Regions from separate parts of the Homo sapiens genome. Here region 2 is linked to region 1. Evidence: fine-mapped expression QTL. A gene starts in region 1. The other region holds a variant in brackets. All regions are shown on one strand. Distances are between the middles of the regions.

What was found.
Region 2: its variant is fine-mapped to the expression of LIN37 in breast (GTEx, PIP 0.90).

What each region holds. Positions count from the first base shown.
Region 1 is chr19:35,747,223-35,750,129 of GRCh38, reverse strand. It overlaps LIN37 (lin-37 DREAM MuvB core complex component), which reads right to left and starts at 1,554. Exons shown (of 9, transcript NM_019104.3): 1 at 1,372-1,554. The coding sequence starts at 1,405. It overlaps PSENEN (presenilin enhancer, gamma-secretase subunit), which reads right to left. Exons shown (of 4, transcript NM_172341.4): 4 at 2,611-2,907. RefSeq lists enhancers at 1,305-1,424, 1,271-1,785, 1,825-1,884, 1,786-2,300.
Region 2 is chr19:35,799,928-35,802,834 of GRCh38, reverse strand. It overlaps PRODH2 (proline dehydrogenase 2), which reads left to right. Exons shown (of 10, transcript NM_021232.2): 9 at 559-644; 10 at 2,613-2,847. The coding sequence ends at 2,797. Among named protein-coding and RNA genes, the nearest start is that of PRODH2, 11 kb to the left of the region's middle. The variant G/A (reference allele first, on the strand shown) is at 1,737.

The DNA of each region.
Region 1 (2,907 bases):
CCTCCCGAGTGTCTCTCCCACCCACCTCCTCCCTACTCTACCCATCCTGGTCCTGTCCTTTGCTCCCCCTTGGCTCCCTGCCTCAGTGTCCCCCTTCTGATACACCCTCCACAAGGCAGCCAGGGGAATCTTCCTGAAAAATAACAAACCTGACCCTGATCTTCCCTTGCTTGGAAACTTCCATGACTCCACAGCACCCAGGGGTGGAGTCTGCACTCCTCAGCCTGGCACTCACAGGTGTACACCTTCCCTCACCATCATTTGTGGTCACACCCACTTCTCTTTTCTTTCTTTCTTTTCTTTTCCTTTCTTTTTTTTTTTTTTTGAGACAGGGTCTCAATCTATCACCCAGGCTGGAGTGCAGTGGTGTGATCTCAGCTCACTGCAACCTCCGCCTCCCCGGCTCCAGCGATCCTCCTGCCTCAGCCTCCTGAGTAGCTGGGACTACAGGCTTGTGCCACCACACCTGGCTAATTTTTTTTTTTTTTTTGTATTTTTTATAGAGACAGCGTTTCGCTATGTTGCCCAGGCTGGTCTCAAACTCCTGACCTCAAGTGATCTGCCAGCCTCGGCCTCCCAAAGTGTTGGGATTACAGGTGTGAGCCACCGCACCCAGCCTCCCACTTTGTTTTAATAACACTTTTGCCATGGGACATCCTACATCATTTTACTATTATCTTTCTGTCTAAATTCTGCACCCCTCCCACTGCCCTTACCATGCCAGGCCTGGGATCCGGTCAGCTCCGCCCCAACCCAAAATTCTCTCCTCTTTCTAAGCTTCACCCATTGACCACAGTTCCTATTTTCTAGGATTACTGGAATATAGTGACTGTGAGGATTAAGAGTGCCTGTACTTCAGGCTCACAGCAAGATGTGTGACTCTGATCACTGCTGGAAATGGGGAAACTGAGGGGAAGCCAAGAAAAGAGAACTTCTCGGCTGGGCGCGGGGACTCACGCCTGTAATCTCAGCACTTTGGGAGGCTAAGGCGGGAGGATCGCTTGAGACCAGGAGTTCGAGACCAGCCTGGGCAATATAGCGATACTCCGTCTCTATTTAAATATTTTAAAAATTTAAATTAAAAAAAAGAGGAAAGAAAAGGGCCCTTCTCAGAGTTACCGGCTCAGGATTCCCCATGTCCTACCACGCACGTCATTGCCCGAGCCACCCCATTCAATCTCAAAGCGACTTCAAGCGCACACCGGGAGGGTGTGAAGGTGGCAGGCAACGCTCGCTGCCTGATACAGCGATTGTCAGGTGGGCTTCAGGGAAAAGTCGTGCAGTCCCCTTTCCGCGATACTCCCTTCCACCGGGACTCCACACCCTGTCAACCCGATGGTCCCGACAGGCCCCCGACGTCAGGGTCCTCACCTGATTTCTCCACTTTCACCTTCACAGGGAACATGGTTTGGGTCCGGGATCTGGCTAGCTGGGTCAGAGGCGCCCCAAAGGGCCTAGGGTCACAAGTCAAGGCGGGAGAAGGCGGGGACAGTTCAAAGATGAGCTTCGTGGGCCACGGGTCCTCCGCCTTTGGTTGTGTCCAGCCTGGACCGTGGCCACCACCCTTCTGTGGGCGGGCCCCTTCGGCAGTAGCTTGTTCCTATTAGTTATTGCAGCCGTCAATCTCGCATCCTGACCAATTGAGAGCTGCCTCCGTAGTCTCCCAGCTTTAGGTCCCACCCACCTGGGGCTTTGCTTCCGGAAACAAACCATCTACCCCCTAGCTTCCTGGGAGGTGTAGTTCCAGCTTCCCAGACTCACCCTGAGTAACAGCGCCTGCGCCGCGCGGGGCACGGTGGGAAACAAAGGATTAGGGCATCGCGAGGCTTCCCGGGACTTGTAGTGTGAGAAGGGTTGAGCAACACCAAGTTAGCTCTTTACCGGATTTAACCAACCGTTGGGGTCCCTTCATCCCTAAGAGGAAGACTAATGTAAAATAACGTTGGGTTCCCTCTCACTGAGCACTCGCTAGGTGCCAGGTATCTGTTAATCTCTTTGCAGGTACAACTTCATTCATTTTGCAAATATTTATTAGTGTGTCGGGCACTCTTCTAGGCATTGGAGACACCTTGAGGAACAGAATAGACAAAAATCCCTGCGCTAATGGAGCTTATCTTTTAAAGGAGGGAAGATAAACAGTAAACAAGTAAATTTTAAGTGAAATGTAATAGGAGAAAGAATATGATCTGGGCGGGGCATGGTGGCTCACGCCTGTAAATCCCAGCTCTTTGGGAGGCCTAGGCAGGCAGATCACCTGTGACCAGGAGTTCGAGACCAGCCTGGCCAACATGGTGAAACCCAGTCTTTACTAAAAATACAAAAATTAGCCGGGCATGGTGGCATGCGCCTGTAATCCCAGCTATTCGAGAGTTTGAGGCAGGAGAATCGCTTGAACCCGGGAGGCGGAGGTTGCAGTGAGCCGAGATCGGACCTCTGCACTCCAGCCTGGGTGACAGAGCAAGACTCCATCTAGAAAAACAAACAGACAACAACAACAAACCCCTCTCCCCCCCCAAAAAAAAAACCCACAAAAAAAGTGTAGCCTGAAAGGGACATAGGAATATCAAGGTGGTGATTGAATTTTAAATAAGATGGATGGTCAAGGAAGGATTCTCTGAGAAAGCTCTTGACTATTTTTATTTTTGCAGACAACACTTCCTTCAGAAAACGGGAAACTTCCATTTGTCACACGTCTTGGTCCAGATAAATCCCAGGAAGTAGCATCGTGATCTACACTTCTGATGAGAATACTGCAGCCCACAGTAGGAAAGTTATATTTTTGAATTCACGACTACCAGTACAGGATAACAGCCCCTAGAAATGGAAGCACTAGGCCGATCCTACCACTGCACTCCAGCCTGGCTGACAGAGCAAGACTCTGTCTCAAAAAAAAAAAAAAAAAAGAAA
Region 2 (2,907 bases), 53 kb before region 1:
TGGCACATGCCTATAATCCCAACACTTTGGGAGGCGAAGGTGGAGGATTGTTTGAGACCAGCCTGGGCAACACAGCAAGACCCCATTTCTACAACAAATTAAAAAAAAAAAAACAGCTGGGTGTGGTGGCGCACACCTGTAGTCCCAGCTATTCCGGAGGTGGAAGGATCACTTGAGCCCAAGAGGTTGAGACTGCAGTGAGCAGTGCTTGAGCCACTGCACTCCAGCCTGGGTAACAAAGCAAGTCCCTACCTCTTAAAACAAACAAACAAACAAACACATTAACCCCTGCTATACCTGTAAGTCCTTATAGGTCCCAGATGGACAAGACGTTGCCCCTTATTTGCTGGGGCATGAGGAGGTCTGAGGGCTCCAGGGAACTGGCTGGGAGTCACTGGGGGACCTTCAAGGAATGCAAAGGACTGGTTATTATGTATCATTGAGTTTGGAAATACTTCAATGTTTGAATTACTGGAGCCGCCATATGGGTGCATAGTGGCTGACTTTAAGCTGTAGATGCAGCCACAGTCTGGACTGATGATGTGGCCTTTTCTGTAGCATGTGGGAGCTGGGCATTCCTCTGGATGGGACTGTCTGTTTCGGACAACTTCTGGGCATGTGTGACCACGTCTCTCTAGCACTGGGTATGTGAATGGCTCCCCCACCCCCATCAAGCCCCAGGCCTTACTCCCTCCCAGCCAGAGCCCTTCTCCTATTCCCAACCAAGGCCCAGCCTCCAGATCCTTCCAGAGAGATCTGTCATTCCAGTGTCTGTGGGCCTTCCAAGGCTGTGTCTCTGTGTCTGCCGTCTGTCATTTCTGCTGGTTCTTGATCATGGTGTATTATTTCTTGTGTGTTTTGTTATCTTTACTGTGCTGCTCCTCAGGGCCTGACACCAGGTAATTAATGTTTCCTTCTGCCAGGTGCTAAGCAGAACGAAATCACTTTATCCTAAATTCATAGCTTGAGGTTTCTTGAAACACCCCACTGGCACAAATTTGAGCTGCAAATACATAAGGGGGTTAACCCATAGCCCCAACTTCGCAGAGGTGGATTTTTCTGTTTTCTTCCTTGATCTGTTTATGGCCAAGACCATTTCCTGGGACTGGGGGAAGGTTGCAGGGTTGACTTTTTATTAACTCTTACTCTAAGGGTGTAGATTTTTGGGTTCCAGCTTAACTTGGGGAAGTTCTCCCTTATAACTCTCACCTCAGGCTTGAAGACTGACTCAATGTCCCCCCGCAACTCTGTGAATTCATCAGATAGCACCTCGGTTTTGCTTTTGGGGCAGAAGTGGCTTGCTGTGTGTCTCTTCTCTCTCTGGGTTCTCATTTTCTCTTTTATTTTATTTTATTTATTTATTTATTTTGAGACAGAGTCTTGCTCTGTTACCCAGGCAGGAGTCCAGTGGTGCCATCTTGGCTCACTGCAACCTTTGCCTCCCAGGTTCAAGCGATTCTCCTGCCTCAGCCTCCCAAGTAGCTGGGATTACAGACGGCTGCCACCACGCCCAGCTAATTTTTGTATTTTTAGTAGAGATGGGGTCTTACCATGTTTGCCAGGCTGGTCTCAAACTCCTGACCTCAGGTGATCTGCCTGCCTTGGCCTCCCAGAGTTGCTGGGATTACAGGCGTGAGCCACCACGCCCAGCTTATTTATTTTGTTTTTGAGACAGAGTCTGGCTCTGTCGCCCAGACTTGAGTGCAGTGGCACGATCTCAGCTCACTTCAACCTCC[G/A]CCTCCTGGGTTCAAGTGATTCTCCTGCCTCCGCCTCCCCAGTAGCCGGGATTATAGGCACGCACCACCATGCCCAGCCAATTTTTGTATTTTTAGTAGAGACGGGGTTTCACCATGTTGGCCAGGTTGGTCAGTGTGCTGAGATTGTGCCACTGCCCTCCAGCCAGGGCGACAGACCAAGACTCTGTCTCAAAATTAATTAATTAATTAATTAATCAATTGAGATAAAATAAAAACAGTTAGCTGGGCGTGGAGGTGCATGCCTGTGGTCCCAGCTATTCAGGAGGCTGAGGTGGGAGGATTGTTTGAGCCTGGGAGGTCAAAGCAGCAGTGAGTCGTGATCACACCACTGCACTCCAGCCTGGGCCACAGGGCTAGACCCTGTCTAAGAGAGAAAAAAAAAAGTTTGCTCCAGGACTTTTAGCTTTTTCAGTTAGAAATTTTATCCAACTCACTTAATCTGCCATGTTCTCAGAAACAGAAGTCTCTGTTCCAGGTGGGGACTGGGGAGTGTCCCCCCAGCCCAAGCCCATACCCTGTCAACACTCCAGGCTGGGCATGGTGGCTCACGCCTGTAATCCCAGCACTTTGGGAGGCCAAAGCAGGAGGATAACTTGAGGTCAGGAGTTCGAGACCAGCCTGGCCAACATGGTGAAACCCCATCTCTACTAAAAATACAAAAATGAGCCGGGCGTCGTGGCAAGCGCCTATAATCCCAGCCATTCTGGAGGCTGAGGCATGAGAATCGCTTGAACCTGGAGGCAGAGCTTGCAGTGAGCTGAGATTGCACCACTGCACTCCAGCCTGGGCAACAGAGCGAGACTCTGTCTCAGAAAAACACCAAAAACGAAAAAACAAAACCCACTCTCCCTGCAGGGCAGGCCGGCTATGTAGTGTATAAGTCCATTCCCTATGGCTCCTTGGAGGAGGTAATCCCCTACCTGATCCGGAGGGCCCAGGAGAACCGGAGCGTGCTTCAGGGTGCCCGCAGGGAACAGGAGCTGCTCAGCCAAGAACTGTGGCGGCGGCTGCTGCCAGGATGCCGAAGGATACCCCACTAGCACCCCTGAGGGGGTCATGTGGTCAATAAAAGTCCTTAGGTGCTGCCTAAGCTGCTGTCCTGCACTGACGCCGCCTCCTTGGGGAAGGGCTCATCTTGACCTCAGCCAGC